2 separate regions of the Homo sapiens genome follow, and region 2 is linked to region 1. Evidence: fine-mapped expression QTL. A gene starts in region 1. The other region holds a variant in brackets. All regions are shown on one strand. Distances are from middle to middle. Region 1 holds the start of AQP8 (aquaporin 8). Region 2 overlaps LCMT1 (leucine carboxyl methyltransferase 1).

What was found.
Region 2: its variant is fine-mapped to the expression of AQP8 in tibial nerve (GTEx, PIP above 0.99).

Annotation. Positions count from the first base shown.
Region 1 is chr16:25,210,189-25,225,666 of GRCh38, forward strand. AQP8 (aquaporin 8) reads left to right here and starts at 6,759. Exons shown (of 6, transcript NM_001169.3): 1 at 6,759-6,869; 2 at 7,010-7,257; 3 at 11,269-11,395; 4 at 14,174-14,388. The coding sequence starts at 6,858.
Region 2 is chr16:25,173,959-25,188,454 of GRCh38, forward strand. It overlaps LCMT1 (leucine carboxyl methyltransferase 1), which reads left to right. Exons shown (of 11, transcript NM_016309.3): 10 at 979-1,076; 11 at 4,043-4,270. The coding sequence ends at 4,065. It also overlaps the pseudogene RN7SL557P. Among named protein-coding and RNA genes, the nearest start is that of LCMT1-AS2, 32 kb to the left of the region's middle. The variant C/G (reference allele first, on the strand shown) is at 4,133.

The DNA of each region.
Region 1 (15,478 bases):
TACATTGAATACAATTGCAAATCTACCGAGATGGAAAGAAAGCAGTTTCAGAAGAGAATGACAGGTTCTGCTTTAAGTTTCTGTGGTTGTCCACAGAGCACAGCCTAAATTGTCAAGTCTCTGCATTATAAATGGTGTCTAGCTTTGAGAAGTTATTAACCTGAAACCCAGTATCTCTGGAATTTGGGGATGATGTATCTGCAAGAACTGTTCTCTTCTGCAAGTACTTGAAATACAAGAACATAAATTCTTTAATTCAGAGGACCCCAAACTTTCTTGGTTCACTCTGTGCGGAGGCCCCCCCCAAAAAAAATACCTAATAGCTCTATTTATTAAGGAATTAGGTGCAAAACACTTAAAAAGTTCTTATGTTCTAACAACTTAGTAGCCATTTGTAAAAAAACCCCACATGTACACAAAACATTCACATATATTGTACAGACAATAATACACATACACTGAATAAGACAAGTACATTAAAAACATATTTTATTTATATTTGTATTTCATTCTTAAATAATTACATAACCTCCCAGCAGGTTCACCTTGCCCGCTGCCTAGACAGAGCCAATTTATCAAGATAGGGAAATTGCCATAGAGAAAGAGTAATTCACGCAGAGCTGGCTGTGCAGAAGACCAGTTTATTATTACTCAAATCAGTCTCCCCAAGCATTCAGGGGTCAGAGTTTTTAAGGACGACTTGGTGGGTGGGAGTAAGCCGGTGAGTCAGGAGTGCTGATTGGTCAGAGATGAAATTATATGGAGTTGAAGCTGTCTCCTTGCGCTGAGTCAGTTCCTGAGGGAGCCCACAAGATCACATGAGCCAGTTTATCCATCTAGGTGGTGGTGCTAGCTGATCCATCAAGTACAGGGTCTGCAGAATAGCTCAAGTACTGGTCTTAGGTTTTACAATCATATATATATATATTTTTATATCTATATATTTTATATTATATATATATTTATTTTATTTTATATATATATATATATATATATATATATATATATATATATATATATTTTTTTTTTTTTTTTTTTTTTTTTTTTTTAAGATGGAGTCTTGCTCTGTTGCCCAGGCTGGAGTGCAATGATGTGATCTTGGCTCACTGCAATTGCTGCTTCCCAGGTCCAAGTGATTCTCTTGCCTCAGCCTCCTGAGTAGTTGGGACTACAGGTGTGTGCCACAACGCCCCACTAATGTCTGTATTTTTTTTTTTTTTTTTTTTTTTTTTTGAGACGGAGTCTCGCTCTGTCACCCAGGCTGGAGTGCAGTGGCGGGATCTCGGCTCACTGCAAGCTCCGCCTCCCGGGTTCATGCCATTCTCCTGCCTCAGCCTCCCAAGTAGCTGGGACTACAGGCGCCCGCCACTACGCCCAGCTAATTTTTTGTATTTTTAGTAGAGACGGGGTTTCACCGTTTTAGCCGGGATGGTCTCGATCTGCTGACCTCGTGATCCGCCCGCCTCGGCCTCCCAAAGTGCTGGGATTACAGGCGTGAGCCACCGCGCCCGGCCTAATGTCTGTATTTTTAATAGAGACGGGGTTTCACTATATGGCCAGGCTGGTCTCAAACTCCTGACCTCAGGTAATGAACCTGCCTCGGCCTCCCAAAATGGTGGGATTACAAGGGTGAGCCACTACATCTGGCCTATATATACGGTCCAAGATGGCTGCCACAGCAGCAGCGTCACATCTGGCACAACAGTGCAGCCATCAAGGCAAGAGAGAAGGGAAAGGTGAGATGCCAGGGTAAAATGTGACCTGTTTCTACACTCCATCTGGACCTGGTGGGGGATGGCAGACAGGTATAGATGCAGAGAAGTCTTGCCAACCAAACAGGGATAAAGATTAGAAGCCTTGGTCCTGTTAACCAGACCTGGATTTGGAAAACTAGGAAGTTTGCCAGCCAAAGAATTTTTTAGGAAGACAGTATCTCCTTAGCCCACTAGGTTTTTCAGTGGTTTTGAGAGACAGTATATTGTGTATGAGGACATCAGGACATACTCTAAAACTCTCATGTAGTGGAAATATGTTGTTTTGTCTGAATGGCATTCAGGTTTTCCCTGGAAGCCACTAGTTTTCTTTTTCTTTCCTTTTTTTTTTCTTTTTTTAATTAAGACGGACTCTTGCTCTGTTGCCAAGGCTGGAGTGCAGTGGTGCAATCTTGGCTCACTGCAATCTCCACCTCCCGTGTTCAAGCAATTCTCCTGCCTCAGCCTCCTGAGTAGTTGGGACTACAGGCGCGTGCCACCATGCCCGGCTAATTTCTTGTATTTTTAGGAGAGATGGGGTTTTACTGTGTTAGCCAGGATGGTCTCGATCTCCTGACCTTGTGATTCACCCGCCTTGGCCTCCCAAAGTGCTGGGATTACAGGCATGAGCCGCTGCACTGGCCTAGTTTTGGAGTTATGGAATCCAACCTTGCCTTGAGCAAGGGAAGGGTGTTTTTAGAGGACCAATAGGTAGTTTGCCCAGGCATCAGAGAGGACATAATATCTGATCTGAGATCTGAATGAGGAGTAGAAGTTGGCCAAGAGGGCAAACAAGGACTCCAAACAGAGGGACTGGCATGGACAAGGCCGGGTGAGGGTACATAGCTTATCTGATAAATTGTTTAGGGTTCATGTGGCAAGAGATGATTCAGGGGCTAGGAACTGAAGTCTCTGTGGCTAGCTAAGGGAGTCTGGGTTTGTCTTGGAACCATGGGACACACTGAATGATTTAATTCAGGGAAAAACTCAACTAGAACCATGGTCTCTGGGAAAGCAACAATTTCTAGTATGTGGCAGAAATTGCTCGATATTCATAAAATGCCTTTCTTTTTCCTCCTGGGCACAGGGCTAGACTACAATTCCCAGGCTCGATTGCAGTCAGGTGAAGCCACGTGACTGAGTTTGAGCCCATCAAATATAGGTGAGAGGGATATATGGTATTTCTAGGCCTAGCCCATAATAATTTCCTGCACAGCCCTCCACATTCTCTTTTTCCCATTTTGCTGGAGAAGATCTGAGGACCTAGATGGGGCAGCTCCAAGATGGAAGTGGCCTGGATCCCTGAGTCACCATTTGGAGACGAGCCTGTCATGGACTATTATGTGAGCAAAGAATCCATTTTTTGGGGGGTGGGGGGGTGGGATGGAGTGTCGCTCTGTGGCCCAGGCTGGAGTGCTGTGGTGTGATCTCGGCTCGCTGCAACCTCCGTCTTCCAGGTTCAAGCGATTCTCCTGCCTCAGCCTCCTGAGTAGCTGGGATTACAGGCGTGTGCCACCATGCCCAGCTAATTTTTGTATTTTTGGTAGAGATGGGGTTTCACCATGTTGGTCAGGCTGGTCTTGAACTCCTGACCTTGTGATCTGCCCGCGTTGGCCTCCCAAAGTGCTGGGATTACAGGTGCGAGCCAGTGCATCCAGCTTAGTTTTTCTTTGTTCAAGGGACTAAGCAAGAACAGATGAAGGCATGGGTGAAAACAAGAGAGAATTATTCTGGAAGCAGTACTGGCAGGATTTGAGCAAATAATGAGGGGGATGGGGAAGCCTTGGGTCAGACTATCTTATGTTGCTATTTATAGGATGTGGAAGGAAGGGTCTAAGAAACATCTTGTATGATGTGCTGTGGGATATGGAGGAGGTAGAGAACAGGGCTAAAAATAACCTTCCTAGAGGTGCAGATATTTGGCAGAGACCCTGTATTCCTGGGCCTCTCGCTGACATGGGCTGTCAACAAACTGTCACGCTCTTCTCTAGATATGTCCACTTCTGTCCTGAAGCAGATATTTTTATGTACACAGCCATGGGTGAGTTCTTAACTTCTTTGTGCCTCGTTTTTATCATCTGAAGATGGTGATAATAAGTGATAGGACTTATCTCAAAGGGGTTTACGAATATATACCGAGTGTTTAGCATGGTGTTGGAGATGTAGTGAGTAGTTGAGAAATGTCAGAAATGAGCATTAAAATTCCGTTAGCTCTAGCTTGACTTCTCTATCAGTGCATACAAACACTCAAAGATAAAGCTATGAGACAGAGCAGGATTTTGCCTGTCTTGTTCACTGCTACATCTCCAGCCAGCTTAGAACAGTGACTGGCTTGCAGCAGCTATTTAAATGTTTGGTGAGTGAATGAATGAATAAGGAACTCATCTCATTTTCTTTCCTTCCTCCTTCCTTTCTCCCTTCCTTCCTCCCTCCCTTCCTTTCTTTCTTCCCTTCTTTCCAACCATCCATCCATCCATCCATCCATTCATCCATCCACCCACCCATCTATCCATCCATCCATCCATCCATCCATCCATCCACCCACCCACCCACCCAACCATCTATCTATCCATCCATCCATCCACCCATCCATCCATGCATCCACCCATCCATCCACTTATCCATCCATCCATCCATCCATCCATCCATCCATCCATCCATCTCTCTTAGAAAGGCAGTAGAGTGTAGTGGGTTAGCTCACAAGTATTTTTTTTCAATTGTGGCAAGATACACATAAAATAAAATATGCCATTTTAACCTTTTTTTTTTTGAGATGGAGTCTCATCCTCTCACCCAGGCTGGAGTGTAGTGGTGTGATCTCAGCTCACTACAACCTCTGCCCCCCAGGTTCAAGCGATTCTCCTGCCTCAGCTTCCCAAGTAGCTGGGATTACAGGCGTGCACCACCACACCCAGCCAATTTTTGTATTTTTAGTAGAGACAGGGTTTCACCATGTGGCCAGACTGGTGTCAAACTCCTAAAATCAAGTGATCCTCCTGCCTTGGTCTCCCAAAGTGCTGAGATTACAGGTGTGAGCCAAGCACACCCAGCATTTGGAACCATTTTTAAGTGTACATTTCAGTGACATTAAGTACTTCACATTGTTGTGCCACTGTATCATCCATCCCAAAACTTTCCTCCCAAACAGGAAATCTGTACCCGCTAAACACAAACTCTTCATTCTCCCTTCCCCTCGGGCCGTGGAAACCACCATTCTACTTCTGTCTCTATGAATTTGACTAGTCTAGGTACTTCATACAAGTGGAATCAGATACAGTATTTATCCTTTTGTGACAGCCCACAAGTTCTGTGATCATATAAGCTGTGTAATCTTGGGAAACTCAATCTTCCTGACACTCCACTTCCTCGTCTGTGAAATGGTTGTAATAATAGTACCTGCTTCACAGGGTGGCAGTGAGGTTTAAATGAGATAATAGAAGGCACTTAGCCCCAGTGCCTGGCACATAGAAAGTGCTCACTATTAGCTATTAGTTACAGCTAAGCATGTATTGTAAATTAGTGGACACTGGTATTGTGTGTCTAGCACTGTCCTGAGCACTTTACCCGTATTATCTCATTTAAACTTCCCAACGACCCTATGACATGGTGAAACCACTAACATCCACACCTAACAGATGAGAAAACAAAGGCCCAGAGAGGCCAAGTCATGTGCCCAAGGGTTACATAGCTAGTTTACAGCAGAGCTGGGATTGAACGCCAGGCAGCCTATTTCCAAAGTTCATGGGTCTTGCCGCTGCATTGCATTACCTCTTGCCAGTCTCTGCTGCCTCTGTCTGTGAAGGATCGTCATCTATACACTCAGTCCTGGCTCAGGCTGTCACGGTGACTGCAGGTGTTTGAAGCTGTGGGACTCATTGGAAAAATAATTGAAAATGGGATTGCTGTTTCTTTCTTTTCTTTTTTCTTTCTTTCTTTCTTTTTTTTTTTTTTTTTTTTAGACAGGGTCTCACTCTGAGGCTGAAGTGCAGTGGCGCGATCTTGGCTCACTGCAACCTCTGGGTCCTGGGTTCAAGTGATTCTCATGCCTCATCCTCCTGAGTAGCTGGGATTACAGGCAAACACCAACACGCCCTCTCTTTCTTTCTCCTTCCTTCCTTCTTTTCTTTCTTTTTCTTTTTTCTTTCTTTCTTTCTTTCTTTCTTTCTTTCTTTCTTTCTTTCTTTCTTTCCTTCCTTCTTTTCTTTCTTTCTTTTTCTTTCTTTTTCTTTCTTTCTTTCTTTCTTTCTTTCTTTCTTTCTTTCTTTCTTTCTTTCTTTTTCTTTCTTTCTTTCTTTCTTTCTTTCTTTCTTTCTTTCTTTCTTTCTTTCTTTCTTTTCTTTCCTTTCTTTCTTTCTCTGTCTTTCTTTCTTCTTTCTCTTTCCTTTTTTTTTTTTTTCAGAGCCTTGCTCTGTTGCCCAGGCTGGAGTGCAGTTGCACAATCTTGGCTCTGCGCAATCTTCGTCTCCCAGGTTCAAATGATTTTCCTGCCTTAGCCCCCCAAGTAGCTGGGATTACAGGCGTGCACCACCACGCCCGGCTGAGTTTTGTATTTTTAGTAGAGACGGGGTTTCACCGTGTTAGCCAGGATGGTCTCAATCTCCTGACCTCGTGATCCACCTGCCTCGGCCTCCCAAAGTGCTGGGATTACAGGCGTGAGCCACTGCACCTGGCTGTTTGCTGTTTCTTAACATGTGAGGTTCCAACCCAGTGGGGCCCACTAACATGTGCTGTTCTGCTTTGGACCGTGGGGAGCTGGGGTGCTGGACCCATCTCCCACCTTCTACAGCCTGGAGTGTGCTCCCAGATGACACAGCCAAGCTGGCGTGTTTTTCCCTCACTGGCGGAAAGTTCAGCAATCCCTGACTCCCTCACCCTGCCCTGTTGAGATTTAAAAAAATTTCCTCTTCTGGGCCTCAGAGCCGCCTCCTACCTGAGGTTTATTGCTTTCTCTGCACCAGCATTGAGCCTCTGCAGCCCTTTAAAAGGGGCAGAGCCCATAGTGTGATCAGCAGGTCCTGTCCCTAGGAGATAAGAGTATCTTGCACAGCAGGTGCAGGTTTCCCAGCAGCTCAGGCAAGAGTCCGATGTTTGTGCCATCTGATCCTGATGTCTGGAGAGGTGAGCCCTCTGTCGGCATCTTCCTCTCCAGGCTGGCAGAGCAAGGGGGGCTGTGAATTAATTCAAGGTTGGGGGTCGGGGCCTTCTATATCTGGACTTGCCTCCCACCCGTGTCCTCTGTCCCTTTTTCCCTACGGCAGATAGCCATGTGTGAGCCTGAATTTGGCAATGACAAGGCCAGGGAGCCGAGCGTGGGTGGCAGGTGGCGAGTGTCCTGGTACGAACGGTTTGTGCAGCCATGTCTGGTCGAACTGCTGGGCTCTGCTCTCTTCATCTTCATCGGGTGCCTGTCGGTCATTGAGAATGGGACGGACACTGGGCTGCTGCAGCCGGCCCTGGCCCACGGGCTGGCTTTGGGGCTCGTGATTGCCACGCTGGGGAATATCAGGTGAGACCAGCTCTGAGGATTCAGCCTGATGCTGACTTGGGGCACTGGGTGTGGAAAGCAAAGGCGTTGTCAAGGACCCCTGGGCGCATACGTATTCGGGATTTCAAGGAGCGCTCTGGATAACTATGGGGTTGGGAGTCAGACTGGGGTCAACTCCAGACCCCGCAGCCTGTGAGCTTGTGACTTTGAGCAAGTCATTCTCTTTTTGAGTAGCTGGATCACAGGCATGCGCCGCAGCACCCAACTAATTTTTAAATTTTGTTGTAGAGATGGGGTCTCACTATGTTGCCCAGGCTAGTCTTGAACTCCTGGTCTCAAGCGATCCTCCTGCCTTGGCTTCCCAAAGTTTTGGGATTACAGGCATGAGACACCATGCCTGGCTGGCAAGTTACTCTCTAAACCCAAAGTTCCCCGCCTATAAAATGGGAATAGTAGCTTTTAAATGTTTTTTTTTTCAAGCCAACATATCTATATTGCTAACCATGTACCAGGCACTAGTCTAATTACTTTATAGATATTAGTTATTTAATCCTCACAAAAGCCTTGTGGGGTAGGTCCTGTTATTAGCCCCATTGTACAGCTGCAAAAGTGAAAGGCCATGTAATCTGTCCAAGCTTAGAGGGCCAGAAAGTGGCAGAGGCGGGAGTCAAGAACAAGCTGTCTGGCTCCAGCGCTCAAATCCAAGTGCCTCATGCGGAAGTCATGAGAATTAAATGAAGTAGAGCGCCTGGCACACACCAAACATACAACAGGCATTGGTTGCTGTGTTATTGTTACCACTAGAAGGGGGTTTTAGGGAAAGCAGAAATGCATAGAAGACCTGAGCCAGGTTTTCCCACCTGGGTATGCAGAGATCTGCAGTGGTCCTGGCTTGTCAAGAGGTGATCAAGAAGGAGGGGCAGGGAAAGGGACAGGCTTCTCTGGCTTAGCTCTCGTCTGGGTAGAGGCTCAATGGGGAGGTCTGTGGACATGGCTGCTGGTTCCCAGGAGAGCCAGCCATCACGACGAAGATCTTGAGTGGGGTGCCTGGCAGGGTGATCTGGGACATGGTTGGTCTGTATTAAATCTCACTCAAAAAATAGATCTGAATGAGGAAACAGAAATACTATTTCTGAGAAAACCAGAATGGAAAAGAGCTTTAACATCTCTTTAGGCCGGGTGCAGTGGCTCACGCCTGTAATCCCAGCACTTTGGGAGGCTGAGGCGGGTGGATCACCTGAGGTCAGGAGTTGGAGAGCAGCCTGGCCAACAGGGTGAAACCCTGTCTCTACTAAAGATACAAAAATTAGCTGGGCGTGGGGGCAGGCACCTGTGGTCCCAGCTACTTCGGAGGCTGAGGCAGGAGAATTGCTTGAACTGGGAGGGAGAGGTTGCAGTGAGCCGAGATTGTGCCACTGCACTCCAGCCTGGGCAACAGAGTGAGACTCCATCTCCAAAAAACAAACAAACAAACAAACAAACAAAAAACAAACCACATCTCTTTAGACGTCCAAGGGAGGCTGCAAGTGAAACAAAAAGTACATGATCTTCCCTTTGGACGGATCTGAGATTGAAGGCAACCTTTATCACTTCTTAGCAGGGTGACCACAGCAAGTTGCTGAAGCCTCTGTGTGCAGTGGTATAAATATGAGTAATAATAATAGCTGATGTTTTTTGAATGCTAACTACATAGATACTACTATGGGCTGTACAAATATTAATTCTTAATATCTTTGCAATAGCTTTATCAGGCAGAGATCATTGAGGCACAGAGAGGTTATGTAACTTTGCCAATGCCACACAGCTCTTCAGTGGCAGAGTTGAGCTTTGAACCCAGGCCAGCTGGCTGGAAAGACCATCTCTTTGGCACTGCAAATACTGCCTCTCTGTTTGGCTTTTTTGACAAATATTTATTCAGCACCTATTGCGTGCCAGACACTGACTTTGAGGTTGTTCACTGGATCCAGGATAAGCTATGTATGTAAGTTATAAGCACCCAGCACAGCCCCTGGCACACAGTAAGTGTCAGAGAAATATATGCTGAGTGAACAATGAATGAATGAATGAATGTGTCTTGATTGTTTTATTGCTAATGAGTGTAAACCAGGAAATGTGTGGTTTTCGTCACCTGGCCCTCCTGATAGAGCCATGCTCTGGGTGACAGTTTCTCTCCCCTTTGGGGCTCCCCTGGGAAGCCGCCTCACCCTGACTTCATCTGTGTATCTCAGCAGAGCCCAGGCTAAGCTACTTGAGGCCAAGTAGGCCTGGCTGCCCCTCTTCCCAACCTGTGGAGTCTGAGCACTGGCTGGTGCTTTCAAACCATGCATGGAGGTCAGGCGCAGTGGCTCACGCCTGTAATCCCAGCACTTTGGGAGGCCGAGGCAGGTGAATCACCTGAGGTCAGGAGTTCGAGACCAACCTGGCCAACATGGTGAAACCCCGTCTCTACCAAAAATACAAAAATTAGCCGGGCGTGGTGGCAGCCCCGTTATCCCATCTACTTGGGAGGCTGAAGCAGAAGAATCGCTTGAAACCAGGAGGCGGAGGTTGCAGTGAGCCGAGATTGCACCATTGCACTCCAGCCTGGGTGACAAAGGGAGACCCTGTCTCAAAAAAAAAAACAAAAAACAAAAAACAAATCAAATCAAACCGTGCATGGAGCTTATCTGAGGGCCTGGGCCCAGAGCTGAGCCAGACAAGTTGGGGTAGCTGGTCTCGAGCTATCAGGGTGTTGGACAAAGTCCTTTTGGGCAGAGCTGAGGTCCTCTGCCCAGTCTCAACTGAATGTCCTATGTCCTTTGGAGGATGGGTAAGCTCATTGGTGGGCTCTTTACATTAGGGGGGCACTTTGGTTCTCAAGTGACATGGGGAGTCTTGGGGTCCCTTTCTCTCTCATTGGGGAGTATCCATTCCTGGAAACCAGATGGATTCAGGAGGCCAAACTGTGACAATATTTCCTCCATCAGAGTGGGACTGGTTGGGACACTGATGTGAGTGCAGCCACCCTGGCTCTGGGGCCTGGGCTGGTTGAACATCTTGGTGAACACGAAGGCTCTTTACCCATGAGCCAGGGGGTGGCTGATCAACTGCAACCTGCCCTTTGACCTCAGGTTCTGACTTGTCTAATTCCCTTCCACACCCCAAACTCCCAATCCCAATCCCTAACCTGGTCATGAACCTCCAACTCCACCCCGTGATTCTCAATGCCATTTTCAGCCTGAACTCCAAATCTGCATTTTACACCCATCACACTTTCAGACCACAAGTAGGGTTTTCACTGGCTGAGCAGTTCAACCAATCAGGAGGTCTTATTCAGGGCCTAGCTACTCATAAAGGGAGACCCGGGCCGGGCACGGTAGCTCGTGCCTGTAACCCCAGCACTTTGGGAGGCCGACGTGGGTGGATCGCTTGAGGTCAGGAGTTTGAGACCAGCCTGACCAACATGGTGAAACCTCGTCTCTACTAAAAATACAAAAATAAGCCAGGCGTGGTGGCACACACCTGTAGTTCCAGCTACTTAGGAGGCTGAGTCAGAAGAATTGCTTGAACTCAAAAGGTGGAAGCTGCAGTGAGCCGAGATCACACCATTGCACTGCAGCCCGCGCGACAGAGCAAGACTCCGTCTCGTAAAATCAAACAAATCATAAGGGGAGGCCTGGATACCGCTCTTGGGCTACTAACTTGGAGCCTTGGTATCTCAATCTGACCTGTGGCCACATCTCTGAAGGGCTGGAGGGAGGCTTGGAGGGAGTCAGGGAGGAGTTAAGGGATGGTCTCCCTACACGCTCTTCCTCCAGGGCCATCCTGGGGGCTGGGCTTTGGACTTAGAGGCTGCCCTTTATCTCTTACCCTCTGCCTGGCATCTCAGGGAAAATGGAAGCAATTTGGTGCCTCTTTGTATTTGAGCTGGGCCCCGGACTGACTCTTGCCCTGAGAGGCCAGCCTGGTGGGTTGGCTGGGACACACTGTCTCAAGTGCCAGCCATGTGGTCAGCCCTGGGCTCATGACTTCCTCTGCTCTTGTGGGTTACAGTGGTGGACACTTCAACCCTGCGGTGTCCCTGGCAGCCATGCTGATCGGAGGCCTCAACCTGGTGATGCTCCTCCCGTACTGGGTCTCACAGCTGCTCGGGGGGATGCTCGGGGCTGCCTTGGCCAAGGTGGGTAAACCCCAGGGGCTGGGCTAGTCTTCCTCTCTGATGGGGCTGCTGGAGGTGCATATGTGGGTGTGTGTGTGGGACAGTGGGGAGTGGGGAAATGTCCAATCTTTTGCTTGTTTCTGCCAGTGGAATTGGTGGACGTTTTTCTTCTCTCTTTCTTTCTTATTGCATTTTATTGTATTTTTTATTTGTTTGTTTTTTTGAGATGGAGTCTTGCTCTGTCACCCAGGCTGGAGTGCAGTGGCCTGATCTTGGCTCACTGCAACCTCTGCCTCCTGGGCTCAAGCAATTCTCCCACCTCAGCCTCCTGAGTAACTGGGATTACAGGCGCATGCCACCATGCCCAGCTAATTTTTGTATTTTTAGTAGAGACGGGGTTTCATCATGTTGGCCAGGCTGGTCTTGAACTACTGAGCTCAAGTGATCTACCTGCCTTGGTCTCCCAAAGTGCTGGGGTTACAGGCATGAGCCACTGTGCCCGGCCTCTCTTTTTTATTTTAGAGATAGGGTCTCACTCTGTTGTCCAGGCTGGAGTGTGGTGGTGCAATCATAGCTCACTGCAGGCTCGACCTCCTGGGCTCAAGTGATCCTCCTGCCTCAGCCTCTTGAGTAGCTGGGACTACAGGTGTGTGTCACCACACCCAACTAATTTCCTCTGCCTAGGAAAACCAGAGACCTTTGTTCACTTGTTTATCTGCTGACCTTCCCTCCACTATTGTCCTATGACCCTGCCAAATCCCCCTCTGTGAGAAACACCCAAGAATTATCAATAAAAAATAAATAAATTAAAAAAAATTTTTTTCTGTAGAGGTGGGCTCTCGCTGTGTTGACCACATTGGCCTCCAACTCCTGGCCTCAAGTGATCTTCCTGCCTTGGCCTCCCAAAGTGCTGGGATTACAGACATGAGCCACCGAGCCTGGCCAGCCACAGAGTTTTCATAGCTTTATGCATAAATCCATGGATAGACTTTCTCCCTTCATCCCTCTTTTTCTTTTTTTTCCCTCTCTTTCTTTCTTTTCTTTTGCCCTTAAGTCTTGGTTCAGCCAGGGATACTTCAAGCCCTTCAAGATGTGGGCCTTGCTTGGTGTGTGTGTGGGGGGTGGTGGATGGGGGAGCTCTGTCAGCTTGGCTGTGATAGGGTCTGAAGCTGTAAGTGCTGACCCACCGCAGACTTTGTTCTCAAGCCTCACTTTACTGTCATCCCCTGCTGTGGTCTCTCCATGTCCCAATTTGAGAGCCACAGCCTGTTCCCCTGTCTATGGAACACGCCCGGGACCTTCCTTCTCGGCTTCTGCTCTGAAAAGCAGTGGCCAGACTCGAGCTCAAGCCCTGCCACTTAAAACCTGTCAAACATGGTTCTGACAGCTGCGGGGCAGCAGGGTTCCCTAAGCACATTCTTCCTGCTAAATGTTTTACACATATTCTCTTATTTCATCTCCCAGCAACTTTATGAAAAACCATAGTCAGTTCATAGAGAGCGCTTACCTTGTGCCAGGCACACCAACGGCCTTGTCTGTGAGCTGGGAGCTGTCAGTATCATCCCTATTTTATAGATGAGAAAACAGAGGTGCAGAGAAGCAGGTAACTTGCTCAAGTTCAGACGTGCCTGTAAGCAGCACAGCCCCGACTGGATCCAGAGTCCAGAAGCTTGTGCACTGCACTGTCTTTCCCCTTCGGGGCTGTGATAGCCCTGAGGCCGATCGCCCATAGAAATAATTGAGCTCAGGCTTCAGGGCTCTCCTGCACATGCCCCTTCCACGGTCCTGTGGGGGCTTAGCAATGAGTTCACCTGATCATATGTGTTTGTAAAGTTTCTAAGAGTAAGGTATTTTTAGCCACGCATGGCGGCTGGTGCCTGTAATCCCAGCATTTTGGGAGGCAGAGGCGGGAGGATCACTGGAGCCTAGGAGTTCCAGACCAGCCTGGGCAACATAGTAAGACCTTCCATCTCTACAAAAAATTTTAAAAAAAACATTAGGTGGGCATGGTTGGTATGTACCTGTGGTCCCAGCTACATGAGAGGCTGAGGTAGGAGGAACACTGGAGCCCAGGAGGTCCAGGCTGCAGTGAGCTATGATCGTGTCACTGCACTCCAGCCTGGGTGACAGAGCTAGACTCTGTGTCAAAGAAAAATAAAAAGATAGTTTATGTTCTTTTTCTCAAAGAGGATCATCTAAGTTACATAAGTTTTAGGTCTGTAACCTGGAGCCATGACTGGGTTATCCCCATTTTTCTTTTTCTTTTTCTTTTTTTTTTTTTTGAGACGGAGTCTTGCTCTGTTGTTCAAGCTGGAGTGCAGTGGTGTGATCTCAGCTCACTGCAACCTCTGCTTCCAGAGTTCAAGTGATTCTGGTGCCTCAGCCTCCTGAGCAGCTGGGATTACAGGTGCCTGCCACTTCACCCCGCTAATTTTTGTATTTGTAGTGGAGATGGGGTTTCACCATGTTGGCAAGGCTGGTCTCAAACTCCTGGGCTCTAGTGACCCACCCATCTCAGCCTCCCAAAGTGCTGGGGTTGCTGGCGTGAGCCACCACGCCTAGCCCCATTACTATTTTTCAGCTGAACAAAGTGAGGCTCAGAAAGGTTCAGTAGTTCACGCAGGGTCGCACAGTAAAATCTGGCAGAGCTGGGATGTGGATGCAGGTATATCTAACTGAAATTGGACATAACCCTTCACTGGCTCTTAAGGTGGGTAGCATGCGTTTTTTAGGCCCTCTCCCCTCAGTTTCCAGCTGTCTCTCTGCCCCACTGTGAGGCTCAGCAGCTTCTCTGTGCAGGCGGTGAGTCCTGAGGAGAGGTTCTGGAATGCATCTGGGGCGGCCTTTGTGACAGTCCAGGAGCAGGGGCAGGTGGCAGGGGCGTTGGTGGCAGAGATCATCCTGACGACGCTGCTGGCCCTGGCTGTATGCATGGGTGCCATCAATGAGAAGACAAAGGGCCCTCTGGCCCCGTTCTCCATCGGCTTTGCCGTCACCGTGGATATCCTGGCTGGGTGAGTGTCCCTTGGCAGTGGGGTGACCATGCCCAGATCTGTGCTGTTCAGCTCTGGGGGATTTCAGGCCTGAGGGTCACAGATTCAGTTGCTATTAGGGGCCAGGAAGGTGCTGCAAATGGGGAGGGGGGCTGGCATCAGGCAGACAACAGGGAGTGGTGGGGACTGCAGTGTCAGAGGTGCTGCAGTCAGTTCAGCTCTTGTCAATTATTGCTGGGTACATGGGTCTGGGCTGATGCTTTCATTCAAAGGAAGTCAGAAATTTAAATCTGTATGTGATGTTTTCCAATGTTGGTAGCGTAAATACAACATTTCTGTGAACTGTGTTCATTCGGTCAGCGGGCAGCCGGGTTTTAGCCTCAGGCTTACAAAGAGCATGTGTAGCTGTTGTCTCATTTATTTTTAGACTCCCAGCAGGCTTTGGAAGGGATTAAGTAGACAAGATTGGGGATGATGTCTCCCGTTTTATAGATAAGGAAACTGAGGCTTAGAGAGGACAGAAGTGACTTATTTAAGGTCAGTGGGCAGTGGCAAATTAAGTGATAGATTTGGGACAAGAGGCTGAGTGAACCCTTTTAATTTTTGTTGTAGAGATAGGGGTCACGCTCTGTTGCCCAGGCTGGTCTTGAACTCCTGGCTTCAAGCCATCCTCCTGCGTTGGCCTCTCAAAAGTACTGGAATTACAGGCATGAGCCACAGTGCCCAGCCCAGGGAGCCCCTCCCTAATGTCTGACTCTTTCCTTTCTTTTGGACACAGAACCAAGTCTAACCTTTCTCCTGGGTCAGCTCTCCCTCAACTTTGGGAGGTGGAGCCTGGGGCAGGCTGGGGAATGTGTGTGTAAAGCTGTGGCCATGCTTTGCTGCCCCCTAGTGGTCTTTGATTCACTTACAAGCCCTTTTTTTTTTTTTTAGCTCCGCTTCCCGGGTTCACGCCATTGTCCTGCCTCAGCCTCACGAGTATCTGGGACTACAGGCGTCCGCCACCACGCCCGGCTAATTTTTTTTTGTATTTTTGGTAGAGACGGGGTTTCACCGTATTAGGCAGGATGGTCTCGATTTCCTGATCTCATGATCCGCCCGCCTTGGCCTC
Region 2 (14,496 bases), 37 kb before region 1:
TGGAGTACAGTGGCGCGATCTCTGCTTACTGCAACCTCCGCCTTCCAGGTTCAAGCAATTCTCCTGCCTCAGCCTCCCAAATAGCTGTGACTACAGGTGGGCACCACCATGCCAGGCTAATTTTTGTATTTTTAATAGAGATGGGGTTTCACCATGTTGGCCAGGCTGGTCTCGAACTCCTGACCTCAGGAGATCCACCCACCATGGCCTCCCAAAGTGCTGGGATTACAGGCGTGAGGCACTTCACCCAACCTGTGTATGTATGTTTAAAAGTTTACATTTAAAAGGCTTTTTGGGAAAAGTCATACATGCATATAATTTTTTACAAAACCAAAATGAAGTAGTATAGAGTAAAAACAACCCTCCTCACTACTGGTCTACTACCTTCTCTCTTAAGAGACAACTACCATTTCTAGTTTCTTCTGTATTTTCCAAAAGTCTGTACATATACAGACAAATTTGTCTCACTTTTTCTTTACATAGAGAGTGGTGTAATATGCACATTACTTGCTTTTTAAATTACGCAACTTGCTTTTTAAATTCCATGATATATATGTCTTGGAGGTTATTGCATATTAATACGTATGGACCTACCCCATTTTTAAAAATGGCTGCATAGTGTCCTGTTTTGACAGTATGAATCTGCTTCAATTTACTCTGCCTGTCTCCTCCAGTTGCCACTAGTTTTTCTTACTGAAGTTTAACAGCTCTTTATATAATAAGGAACTCAGCCCTTTGCCACTTGAATTGCAAATATATGTTTCTAGTTTGGCATTTGTATTTTGACTTTGTTTATGGTATTTTTTCTTCTTTTCAGTGAAAAGACATTAAAATGGAGCCACACCATAATTACTATTTTATAGCCGCCTTCTTTCCACTTAATCTATCATAAACATTTTTTCATATCCGTAGCTATGGGCCATGATCTTCATTTTCAATGCAGACACTTGCATCGTTCTATTTTAATTCTTTCCACAGGATAGAATCACTTGAATTCCTGGATGAAATGGAGCTGCTGGAGCAGCTCATGCGGCATTACTGCCTTTGCTGGGCAACCAAAGGAGGAAATGAGCTTGGTGCGTGATTGTACTTTTCTTGCCTTGACCTGGAAATAGTGAACTTTTCTTTTTCCTATTCTTTCCCTTTCTCTTTCTGTTTTTTGTCTTCCCTCTTTCTCTCTCTGTCCCTTCTTTCTTGTTTTGAGACAGGGTCTCGCTCTGTCACCCAGGCTAGAGTGCAGTGGCACGGTCATAGCTCATTGCAGCCTTCAATTCCTGGGCTCAAGTGATCCTCCTGCCTCCTGAGTAGCTGGGACTACAGGAGCCTGGCTAATTTTCTGTAGAGGTCTCTCTAAGGCTGGTCTTGAATTCCTAGCCTCAAGTAGGCTGGGCGCGGGGTCTCACACCTGTAATCCCAGCACTTTGGGAGGCTGAGGTGGGCAGATCACTTGAGGTCAGGAGTTTGAGACCAGCCTGGCCAACATGATGAAACCCCGTCTCTACTAAAAATACAAAAAAAAAAAAAATAGCCAGGCGTGGTGGCAGGCACCTGTAATCCCAGCTACTTGGGAGGCTGAGGCAGGAGAATCACTTGTACCTGGGAGGTGGAGGTTGCAGTGAGCCGAGACTGCACCATTGCACTCCAGCCCGGGCAAGAAGAGCGAAACCCTGTCTCAAAAAATAAATAAATAAAGAATTCCTGGCCTCAAGCAATCCTCTTGCCTCAGCTTCCCAAAGTGCTGGGATTACAGGCATGAGCCACTGTGCCTGGCCGGAACTTTTCTTCTTCCCAAAATGAAAGATGTATTTGGAACTTTGGGCCCAGAAAGAACTAGAGGATGATGTACATGTATCCGTGAGCATATCCAGAGAACTTGCTGTTATATCTTTTGTGCTTTTATAGCACAAAAACCAAGAGAACTGTTTAAGCCTTGTAGCCCAAAACAACCCTTGAGAGATGTACTGTGGAGTTCCCACAGCTGGAAGGTAAAAGAGCTTGAGAGTTTAAAAATCTCTAGAAAAGTAACCGGCGTTTGTCTTTTCCATCCACTTACAACCAGGTTCACTGGATGTTAAACGCACAGATCAGTACATCTTGCTTACAAACCCATGCAGCTAGGGGCTGAATTTTCCCTCTTCTCATTAAGGTGCACATGCCTGTCTGTGGCCGAGTAGGGCCACGGAGAACAGGCGTGGATCTATCTCTGTTTCTTGTTACCTTTGTCCTGGTCCAGCTCCTTTTCAGCTGCCCCCTGCTGGGCTTGCCTCCCCCAGTGGTTAGGCTTTGAGTGTCTCTCCAGCCCGATGGAGGCCACTTTAGATCCCAGTTCCGGCCTTCAGTGGAATAGCTGCCCTTCAAGCTTCCCGCAGATGTAATCCACATGACATGTGGTCACAAGCGGGCAGCTGATCCGAAACAGAACTTGACAGAGGCAAGGACCATTCCCTATGCAAAAATTCCAGGTTGACATGAGACTGATAATCAGCCCCTTTGGACCTGTCATTCCACACAGATTTGCCTAGCTATGCAGCTCAGCCCACACAATCCTTTCACATTTGTTTTGTTTGGTTTTGGTTTTTGTTTTTTTTTGGCTTTTTTTTTTTTTTTTTTTTTTTTTTTTTTGAGATGGAGTCTTGCTCATTGTCCAGGCTGGAGTGCAGTAGCATGATCTCGTCTCACTGCAACCTCCGCCTCCTGGGTTCAAGTGATTCTCCTGCCTCAGCCTCCTGAGTAGCTGGGATTACAGGCGTCCACCACCATGTCCAGCTAATTTCTGTATTTTTGGTAGAGATGGGGTTTCACCATGTTGGCCAGGCTGGTCTCGAACTCCTGACCTTAAGTGATCTGCCTGGCTCGGCCCCCCAAAGTGCTGGGATTATAGGCATGAGCCATTGTGCCTGGCCTTCACATTCCTTTTGGATTTAAAGTCATTTATTGTGAATTGAGCGCAGTGGCTCATGCCTGTAATCCCAGCACTTTGGGAGGCTAAGGCAGGCAGATCACCTGAGGTCAGGAGTTCGAAACCAGCCTGGCCAACATGGTGAAATCCCGTCTCTACTAAAAATACAAAATTTAGCTGGGCGTGGTGGCACATGCCTGTAGTCCCAGCTACTTGGGAGGCTGAGGCAGGAGAATCTCTTGAACCCGGGAGGCAGAAGTTGCAGTGAGCTGAGATGGCACCACTGTACTCCAGCCTGGGCAACAGAGCGCGACTCTGTCTCCAGAAAAAAAAAAAAGTCACTTATTGGGGTATTTGTATGTTATCCTCCTCTTAATTATATTAAAAAATACTTCTTAGTAGGAAACTTAAAAGCTTCTAAAAAGTATGACTAAGAAAATCCACCTGTATGCCTGTCAGTCAGAGATGACCTCTTGTGACTTTTCCCTTCCCCTCTATTTCTAAATAGTGTTTTGTTTGTTTTTATAATAAGAGTTGAATTTTTATATTTATGCAACTTTGATTTCAAGTGTTTTCAATTTAATGTTATAACATTAGCATTTCCCCCTGGCAATTAAAAATGCTCAATGAGCATAATTGTAATGGCTTTATAATATTGTATTATGTCACTATGGCTGAATTAATATTTCCATATTTTTGGAAATGTAGGTTATTTGTAATACTTTTAAGTGAACTCTAGTTCTCACAAAGGAACAATATATTGAGCATTTTAATGTCAGGAATTTACTTTGTCCCCACTGACCCGTGACTGCTTTGGGACATCAGTGCTTGTCTGTGTGTGTGGAAGATCCGTATCTGCCTTTGCTCAAAGTTCAGCACATAAAGGGTAGATTTTTGGCGTTAACTGCAGACAGTCCATAAACTGTTATAATGTTTTCTTAATCATTTTAAAACCACCCATAAACACAGTCTTACCCAACCTTTTGTTTCCTTGCGAAACCTCATTTTATGTAGCAGGAGGGCGGTGCTACAGTGGTCAGCAGTGTGGCTGGTGCCCCTGAGCCGGTCACTGGGGGTCCTCTAGGGGCCTCTGCTCCTGGCCACCAGAGTCTCCTAATGGTGTCTGTGTGTCTCTCCCCTCAGGGCTGAAGGAGATAACTTATTAATCTGTCGAAGGCTTATGCCGAGCCAGAAGCCGAAGCCACTTGCCCTCCTGGAGGAGACCTGCAAGCT[C/G]CCTGAGCGGTGGGCGGGCCTCGTCCGCAGGTCTCATCCCACACTCTTGAGAAGCCTTGGTCACTACAGTGGTCGCACATGTTCCTCTTCCTGTTCCTGTTGACATGTCGTTGTTTAAATAAATCTCACTTGCCACCAGTCGCCTGTGGTTGGACCTCTGCTGGCTGCCGCTGCTCGTTCCGTGCCCCATGGCTTGGGCGGGCCAGGGTTCACCTCTGTGTTAGCTAAAGCCAAGGACCCCAAGTCTGCTTTGACCTTGGCTTACTCCCTGTGAGTCACACCCGGCCCATGACCTTGAGTCCATTTTAGGATCTACTCCCTCACATGCTGTTTGTTGCAGCACATGACATTGTGCCTCACTCCCTGACCCTTGTCCTCCACCAGATGTGAGGCTAGTGCTCTTCTCGGGCTCCTGTCTCCGCCCTGGCCACACTGGCCTGCTCAGTTGCCTCCTTCATCTTGGTCATGGTGGCAGGCTGAAGAATGGCCCCTAAAGTGTCCATGTCCTGATCCCCAGAACCTGTGAGTGTGTGTTACCTTCTGTGGCAAAGGGGCTTTGCAAATGGGATTAGGGGTTTGAGATGAAGAGGTGGTCCTGGGTTATCCAGGTGGGCCTGATAGGATCACGGGGTCCTCATTAGAGGGACAGACGAGGCGTCAGAGTCAGAGGGGCCCAGACAAGAAGCAGGGGCAACCAGGGGATGCTACCTAGGGCAATAGCAGCAGACCCTCCCTTGGCCTCCAGCTGGAACTGCCTGCCAACACCTTGATGTTAGCCCAGAGAAATCGATTTCAGATTTCTCACCTCCAGAGCCGTAAGAGAATACATCTGTGGTGGTGGTTTTTTTTTTTTTTTTTTCTTTTTTTTAGATGGAGTCTTGCTCTGTTGCCCAGGCTTGGAGTGCAGTGGCGCGATCTCGGCTCACTGCACCCTCTGCCTCCCGGGTTCAAGTGATTCTTCCGCCTCAGCCTCCCAAGTAGCTGGGATTACAGGTGCATACCATCATGCCTGTCTAATTTTTGTATTTTTAGTGGAGATAGAGTTTCACCATGTTGGCCAGGCTGGTCACGAACTCCTGACCTCAAGTGATCCGCCCGTCTTGGCCTCCCAAAGTGCTGGGATTACAGGCATGAGCCTCTGTGCCCAGACTGATCTGTGGTGTTTTGAGCCACCAAGTTGGGGGCTTAAACTTACAGCCACAACTAGAAGTCAATGCAGTTATGAGACAGGTTCATAGGGCCCCTGAGTGATGACCTCATATTTCAGAAACATAAGGCTTGTCCCATACCTGTCTGCTGAACTCCCTGAGTGATGGGTAGACCTTGTCTACAGGGACTTCTTAAGTTATGTGACTGGCGCTGCGAGCCTGAACCTGCATGTGCAGGGTGGCACTGCAGAAGTCCCCAGCGCTCTCCTCTGCTGGAGAGGTAACAGCCTCTCTTCTACCATTCAGAATCCTTAAATCAGTGTCCCCTAGAGTGTGGGCCCTGCACCTCTAGTGGCATGCCAGTTGATGGGATGTGTTCCTATCAATAAATACCTGTGATAAAATGTATAAATTAGGTGCAGTAAGACTAGCAACAATTTAAAAAAGAACAACTATAGCAATATGTTAAGGTTATGTGAATGTGGTCTTTGAAGATATCTTAACTGGCCGAGTGCAGTGGTGCACGCCTGTAATCCCAGCACTTGGGGAGGCCAAGACAGGTGGATCCTGAAGTCAGGAGTTCGAGACCAGCCTGGCCAACATGGTGAAACCCCCCCCCCACCGCCCCGCCGCCTGTAATTCCAGCTCTTTGGGGGGCTGAGATGGGCAGATCACAAGGTCAGGAGTTCAAGACCAGCCTGGCCAACATGGTGAAACCCTGTCTCTACTAAAAATACAAAAAAAAAAAAAAAAAAATCCGGGCTTGGTGGCAGGCATCTGTAAGGCAGGAGAATTGCTTGAACCCAGGAGGCAGAGGTTGCAGTGAACCGAGATTGCGCCACTGCACTCCAGCCTGGATGACAGAGCAAGACTCCATCTTGGAAAAAAAGAAAATATCTTAGCTATACTCACTTATTTTTGGACCTCAACTGACCTCAGGTAACGGAAACCTTGGAAAACAAAACCACAGGAAAGGGGTAACTCTGGTATATGTATAGCATTAGCAGAAACAATGTTTACTTTTTTTATTGAGACGGAGTCTTGCTCTGTCACCTAGCCTGGAGTGCAGTGGCGCGATCTCAGCTCACTGCAAGCTCCACCTCCCGGATTCACGCCATTCTCCTGCCCCAGCTTCCCAAGTAGCTGGGACTACAGGAGCCCGCCACCATGCCCAGCTAATTTTTTTTGTGTTTTTAGTAGAGATGGAGTTTCACCACGTTAGGCAGGATGGTCTCTATCTCCTGACCTCGTGATCCACCTGCCTCGGCCTCCCAAAGTGCTGGGATTACAGGCGTGAGCCGCCGTGCCTGGCCCCACAATGTTTACTTTTTGTTGTTGTTGTTTTCAGAAAGGGTCTTGCCCCATCTCCCAGGCTGGAGTGCAGTAGTGCAGTCATAGCTCTCTGCAGCCTCAACCTCCTTGGGCTCAAGTGATCCTCCTTCCTCAGCCTCCTGAGTAACTGAACCACAGGCACACACCAGCAAGCCTGGCTATTTTTAACTTTTTTTGTGGAGACAGGGTCTCCCTATGTTGCCAGGGGTGGTCTTGAACTCGGGTTCAAGTGATCCTCCCATCCGTCCTATTCCAAATTTGATATTGAAATTAGGCCAGTTAATAACCCTACAATGGCCTCTACATGCTCAAGTGAAAGGAAGAGTCACAAAGAGTCACATGCCTTTCACTTTAAATCAAAGCTGGAAATGATTAAGCTTGGTGAGGAAGGCACGTCAAAAGCTGAAATAGGGTCGGCTGTGGTGGCTCATGCCTGTAATCCCAGCACTTTGGGAGGCCGAGGTGGGCGGATCACCTGAGGTCAGGAGTTTGAGACCAGCCTGGCCAACATAGTGAAACCTCATCTCTACTAAAAGTACAAAAATTAGCCTGGTGTGGTGGCAGGCGCCTGTAGTCCCAGCTACTTGGGAGTTTGAGGCAGGAGAATCGCTTGAACCTGGGAGGCAGAGGTTGCAGTGAGCGAAGATGGCACCACTGCACTCCAGCCTGGGTGACAGAGTGAGACTCCATCTGAAAAAAAAAAAAAAAAAAAAAAAAACTGAAATAGGCCGAAAGCTAGACCTCTTGTGCCAAACAGCCAAGTTGTGAATGCAAAGGAAAAGTTCTTGGAGGAAATGAAAAAGTGCTACTCCAGTGAACACATGAATGATAAGAAAGCGAAACTGTATTATTACCGATATGGAGAAAGTTTGAGCGGTCTGTATAGAAGATCAAACCAGCCACAACCTTCCCTTAAGCCAAAGCCTAATCGAGAGCAGGGCCCTAACTCTCTTCAATTATGTGATGGCTGAGAGAGGAGAGGAAGCTGCAGAAGAAAAGTTGGAAGCTAGCAGAGGTTGGTTCCTGAGGTTTAAGGAAAGAAGCCGTCTCCATAACATAAAAGTGCAAGGTGAAGCAGCAGGTGCTGATGGAGAAACTGAAGCAAGTTGTCCAGAAGATCCAGCTGAGATCATTGATGAAGGAAGGTGGCTACACTAAACAACAGATTTTCAATGTAGGCAAAACAGCTTTCTCTTGCAAGAGGATGCCATCTAGGACTTCCAAAGCTAGAGAGGAGAATTCAATGCCTGGCTTCAAAACTTCATAGGAAAGCCTGACTTCTTAGTGTCTAGTATGAAATGCAGCTGGTGACATTAAGTTAAGGTCAGTGCTTATTTACCATTCTGAAAATCCTAGGGCCCTTAAGAATTATGCTAAATCCACTGGGTGCAGTGGGTCATGCCAAGGCAGGCGGATTGCTTGAGGCCAGGAGTTCGAAACTAGCCGAGCCAACATGGTGAAACCCCATCTTTACTAAAAAATACAAAAATTAGCTGGGTGTGGTGGTGCATGCCTGTAGTCCCAGCTACTTGGGAGGCTGAGGCACGAGGATTGCTTGAACCTGGGAGGTGGAAGTTGCACTGAAGCAAGATTGTGCCACTGCACTCCGGTTTGTGTGACAGAGTGAGACTCTGTCTCAAAAAAAAAAAAAAAAGGTGCCAAATCTGTGTGCTATAGAAATGGAACAACAAAGCCCAGGTGACAGCACATCTGATTACGGTGTGGTTTACTGAGTATTTTAAGGCCATTGTTGACACCTACTACTGAGAAAAAAAATTACTTTCAAAATATTATTGCTTATTGACAGTGCACCTGGTCACCAAAGAACTCTGACAGAGATGTGCAAGGCGATGAATGCTGTTTTCATGCATGCTGACACAACATTCATTCTGCAGCCCCACGGATCAAGGAGTAATTTTGACTTTCAAGTCTTACTATTTAGAAATGTATTTTGTAAGGCCAGGTGCAGTGGCTCACGCTTGTAATCCCAGCACTTTGGGAGGCCGAGGTGGGTGGATCACAAGGTCAAGAGTTCCAGACCAGCCTGGCCAATATGGTGAAACCCCGTCTCTACTAAAAATACATAAATTAACCCGGCGCAGTGGCGGGCGGCAGTAGTCCCAGCTACTTGGGAGGCTGAGGCAGGAGAATCGCTTGAACTTGGGAGGCAGAGGTTGCAGTGAGCCAAGATCACGCCACTGCACTCCAGCCTGGGCGACAGAGTGAGACTCCATCTCAAAAAAAAAAAAAATAATAATGAAATACATTTTGTAAGGCTGTAGCCACCATAGGTAGTGATTTCTCTGATGGATCTGGGTAAAGTACATTGGAAACCTTCTGAAAAGGATTCACCATTCTAGATGCCATTAAGAACATTAGTAGCCGAGCACGGTGGCTCATGCCTGTAACCCCAGCACTTTGGGAGGCCGAGATGGGCAAATCATTTGAGGTCAGGAGTTCAAGACCAGCCTGGCCAACATGGTGAAACCCCCTTCTCTACTAAAAATGCAAAAATTAGCCGGGTGTGGTGGGACATGCCTGTAATCCCAGCTATTGAGGAGGCTGAGGCAGGAGAATTGCTTGAGCCCGGGAGGCGGAGGTTGCAGTGAGCCGAGATCACGCCATTGCGCTCCAGCCTGGGCCACAGAGCTAGACTCCGTCTCAAAAAAAAAAAAAAAAAAAAAATTAGTAATGCATGGGAGGAGGTCGAAATATCAACCTTAATGGGTTTGGATGAAGTTGATTCCAGCCCTCATGGATGATTTTGAGGCATTTAAGACTTCAGTAGAGGAAGGAATTGCAGATGTGGTGGAAATAGCAAGGTAACTAGAATTAGGAATGGAGCATAAAGATGTGACTGAATTGCTGCAATCTCATGATCAGACTTCAACGGATGAGGAATTGCTACTTATGAATGAGCAGAGAAAGTGGTTTCTTGAGATAGAATCTACTCCTACATCCTTGAAGATGCTGTGAACATTGTTGAAATGACAATAAGGGATTTAAGATGTTACACAAATTTAGTTGATAAAGCAGCAGCAAAGTTTAAAAGGAATGACTCCAATTTTGAAAGAAGTTCTACTGTGAGTAAAATGCTGTAAAACAGCCTCTCTCGCCACAGAAATCTTTCGGGAAAGGAAGAGTCAACCAATGAGGCAAACTTCATTGTTGTCTGCACAGCCATTCACTGATCTTTCAGTAACCACCACCCTGCTCAACCAGCAACCATCAACATCAAAGCAAGACTCTCCACCAGCCAAATGATGATGACTTGCTGAAGGCTCAGATGATCATTAGCATTTTTAAAGCAATAACGTATTTTTAAAGTAAGGCATGCACATCTTAAAGACATAATACTATTGCACACGTAATAGAATACAGTATAGCATAAACATAACATTTATATGCACTGGGAAACCAAAAAATTCATGTGATATTCACTTTATTGAGATGATCTGGAACTAAACCTGCAATATCTCTCAGATATTCCTGTACGTGAAATCTTTCGAAAGAACAATATTTGTTCTTTTTTTCTTTTCTTTTCTTTTCTTTTTCTTTTTCTTTTTTTTTTTTTTTGAGATGGAGTCTTGCTCTTGTTGCCCAGGCTGGAGTACAATGGTGCGATCTCTGCTCACTGCAACCTCCGCCTCCCAGGCTCAAGCGATTCTCCTGCCTCAGCCTCCCGAGTAGCTGGGACTACAGGTGCACAACACCGCACCCAGCTAATTTTTGTATTTCCAGTAGAGACGGGGTTTCACCATGTTGGCCAGACTGGTCTCGAACTCCTGACCTCAGGTGATCTGCTTGCCTTAGCCTCCCAAGGTGCTGGAATTATAGGCGTGAGCCACCACGCCCGGCCTGGATTTCTTATATATAAGATCATGACAGACATAATGTTACTTCTGTGCCATTTTGGATGCCTTCTCTTTGTTTTTCTTGCACAATTTCTCTGTCTACCTTCAATCCGATATTGAATAGAAGTAGTAAAAAGTGGACATCCTTGTCTTATGCCTGCTATTGGAGAAAAAGCTTTTAGTCTTTCGTTGTTGAGTATGATATTAGCTGTGGGTTTTTTTATATGGTCAGGTTGTGTATGGTGGCTCCTGCCTGTAATCCCAGCAGTTTGGGAGGCTGAGGTGGGAGGATTGCTTGAGGTCAGGAGTTTGAGATCAGTCTGGGCAACATAGGAAGACTCTTTGTTTACAAAAAACTAAAAAATTAGCTGGGCATGGTGGTGCATGCCTAGCTACTTGGAGGCTGAGGCAGGATGATAGCTTGAGCCCGGGAGTTTGAGGTTACAGTGAGTAATGATCATGCCACTGCCCTCCAGCCTGGACAACATAGCAAAATCCTGCCTCATAAATAAATAGTCTTTATTATATTGAATTAATTTCCTATTTCTAATTTCGTTGAGTGCTTTTTAAATCATGAAAGGATATAAATGTTCTCAAATTTTTGTTTATATCAATTGAGATGATTGTGTGTGTGTGTGTTTTTTTTTCCCCTTTGGTTAATGTGGTACATTACATCGGTTGATTTTTGTACATTGGGCCACTCCAGGAATAATTCCACTTGGTCATGGCATATAATTCTTTTAATATACTGCTGAGTTCAGTTTGCTAGAATACCAAAAAAAGCCAGGCGTGGTGGCAACATGCCTATCATCCAGCTACTGAAGAGGCTGAGGTGGAAAGATCACTTGAGCTGGGGAGTTGGAGGCTGCAGTGAGCCGTGATCAAGCCACTGAACTCCACGCTGAGCGACAGTTTTCTAGAATTTTCGTTGAGGATTTTTGTATCCATCTTTTTTATTATTGTTGTTGAGACAAGGTCTCACTCTGTCGCTCAGCATGGAGTTCAGTGGCTTGATCACGGCTCACTGCAGCCTCCAACTCCCCAGCTCAAGTGATCTTTCCACCTCAGCCTCTTCAGTAGCTGGGATGACAGGCATGTTGCCACCATGCCTGGCTTTTTTTGATATTTTTTCTGTAGAGATGAGGTTTCGCCATGTCGCCCAGGCTGGTCTCAAACTCCTGAACTCAAGCAATCTGCCTGCCTCAGCCTCCCAAAGTACTGGCATTACAGGCTTGAGCCACCACAACCAGCCTAGTAATGTTCTTTTCTTTTTTGAGACAGAGTCTCACTCTGTTGCCCAGGCTGGAGTGCAGTGACACAATCTTGTTCACTGCAACCTCCACCTTCAAGGTTCAAGCGATTCTCGTGCCTCAGCCTCCTGAGTAGCTGGGATTACAGGCATGTGCCACCACGCCCGGCTAATTTTTTTTTTTCGAGATGGAGTTTCACTTTTGTCACCCAGGCTGGAGTGCAATGGCACCATCTTGGCTCACTGCAACCTCTGCCTCCTGGGTTCAAGTGATTCTCCTGCCTCAGCCTCCTGAGTAGCTGGAATTACAGGCGCCCGCCACCACGCCTGGCTAATTTTTTGTATTTTTAGTAGAGACGGGGTTTCACTGTGTTGGCCAGGCTGGCCTCAAACTCCTGACCTAGTGATCCACCCGCCTTGGCCTCCCAAAGTGCTGGGATTACAGGCGTGAGCCACCATGCCTGGCCAATTTTTGTATTTTTAGTAGAGACGGGGTTTCACCATGTTGGCTAGGCTGGTCCTGAACTCCTGATCTCAAATGATCCACCTGCCTCGGCCTCCCAAAGTGCTGCTGGGATTACAGGCGTGAGCAACTACACCCGGCCTCAATCTTTATATGAGATATTAGTCTGTAATCTTCTTCCAGGGTCTTCATTTAGCTTTGGTACTGGGGCCATGCTTTTAGAATCAGTTAGGAAGTGTTTCCTCCTTTTTCTTTTTTCTTTTGAATTAGTTTGAGAAGAATTGGTATTAATTAAACATGCATTCGCTGCATGTGTGTGGAGTGTCCTGCACATGTCTGTTAGGTCCAGTTTGTTCACAGTGTTGTTCCTGTCCTCTGTTTCCTTATTCATCTTCTCTCTAGCTGTTCTCACCATAGGCTTCAGACTCCAAAGCTTATCTGAGACCTTGATCTTTTTTCTTTTTTTCTTTGAGGCAGAGTCCTGCTCTGTCACCCAGGGTGGAGTGCAGTGGCACAATCTCAGCTCACTGCTACCTCTGCCTCTCGGGTTCAAGCAATCCTCCCACCTCAGCCTCCCTAGTAGCTGGGATTACAGGCAAGCGCCACCATGCCGAGCTAATTTTTGTATTTTTAGTAGAGATGGAGTTTCTCCATGTTGACCAGGCTGGCCTCGAACTCCTGACCTCAGGTCATCCACCCGCTTTGGCCTCCCAAAGTGCTGTGATTACAGGTGTGAGCCACCGTGGCCGGCCTGAAACCTGGATCTTAACCCTAATTAACCAAACAGAGGGAAAAGTCTGATGTCTCCTAGATGGAATTCCCAGGAGCCTATCTTAACCTCCTCTTAGGTGACTCACCAGCTTCTCAAACAACATTTCTAAAACCAAATACATCTTTCCCCCTCTCCTAAATAACTTTACTTTTCTTTTCTTTTTTTTTTTTTGAGACGGAGTTTTGCTGTGTCACCCAGGCTGGAGTGCAGTGGTATAGTCTCAGCTCACTGCAGCCTCCACCTCGCAGGTTCAAGCGATTCTCTTGCCTCAACCTCTGAGTAGCTGGAATTACAGGCATGAGTCACCACATCCAGCTAATTTTTGCATTTTTAGTAGAGATGAGGTCTTGCCATGTTGGCCAGGTTGCTCTCGAACTCCTGACCTCAGGTGATCCACCCTCCTTGGCCTCCCAAAGTGCTGGGATTACAGGCATGAGCCACCACGCCTGGCCCTAAATAGCTCTTCTTTAATGAGCTTTGAATTCCTTCCCAGCAGGACCTCCACTCCACTCAGCATCCTCAGAGTCATCGACTCCTTGCTTCTCCTTGTTCTCCTCACTGGCTAGGAGGCCATGTTTGGTTCCTTTTCCTCAATCAGCGTGTTTATCATAACTGTCTCTACTGTACTGCTGCCACCCAGACTCAGTCTTCTGTCTCACAAGAATCTTTTTGGCCTTTGTTCTCAGCCTCCTGCATTCCTGTAGACAACAAACCTGTCCCCTGAAGCCCTGAGCACATCATTCCAGTGACCAAAGACTGTCAAAGCTGCCTCTTTGCTTAATGCCTGAACGCCCAACTCTTAACAAGGCAAGGAAGATGCTCTGTGATTGGGCCTCATCTTACATGTAGTCTTATTTTCTAGTCAAAAAACCAGGTGCCGCCAGGCTGTATCTAATGCCAGCCTCTCTCCTTGGCCTGTGCTTTCCCCAGAGTTCATGCCTGCAACCCTGCCCACCTTCAAAGCCCACCCCAAATGCAAACTTCCTTGACCCTTTCATTTTTTTTTTTTCCTCGAGATGGAGTCTTGCTCTGTTGCCCAGGCTGGAGTGCAATGGCATGATCTCAGCTCACTGCAACCTCTGCCTCCCAGGTTCAAGCAATTCTCCTACCTCAGCCTCCTGAGTAGCTGGGATCACAGGTGTGCGCCACCACACCCAGCTAATTTTTGTATTTTTAGTACAGACGGGGTTTCACCATGTTGGCTAGAGTGGTCTTGAACTCCTGACCTCAGGCAATCTGCCCTCCTCGGCCTCCCAAAGTGCTGGGATTACAGGTGTGAGCCACTGCACCTGGCTCCTTTCATTATTTTATTATTTTATTCAATGAAAGATAAGCACCTACTGTATAAGCAAGACAGACATGACATATGCCCTTAAGGAGCTTTCATTCTTTTGGAGGACTGTCAAATATGCCTTACTGTAAGGTATGGCAACCTTTATGTGGGAAAGCCATGGATTCACCTAACAAAAGCAGCTTATTGGCTGGGTGCAGTGGCTCATGCCTGTAATCCCAGCACTTTAGGAGGCCAAAGCAGGCGGATCACTTG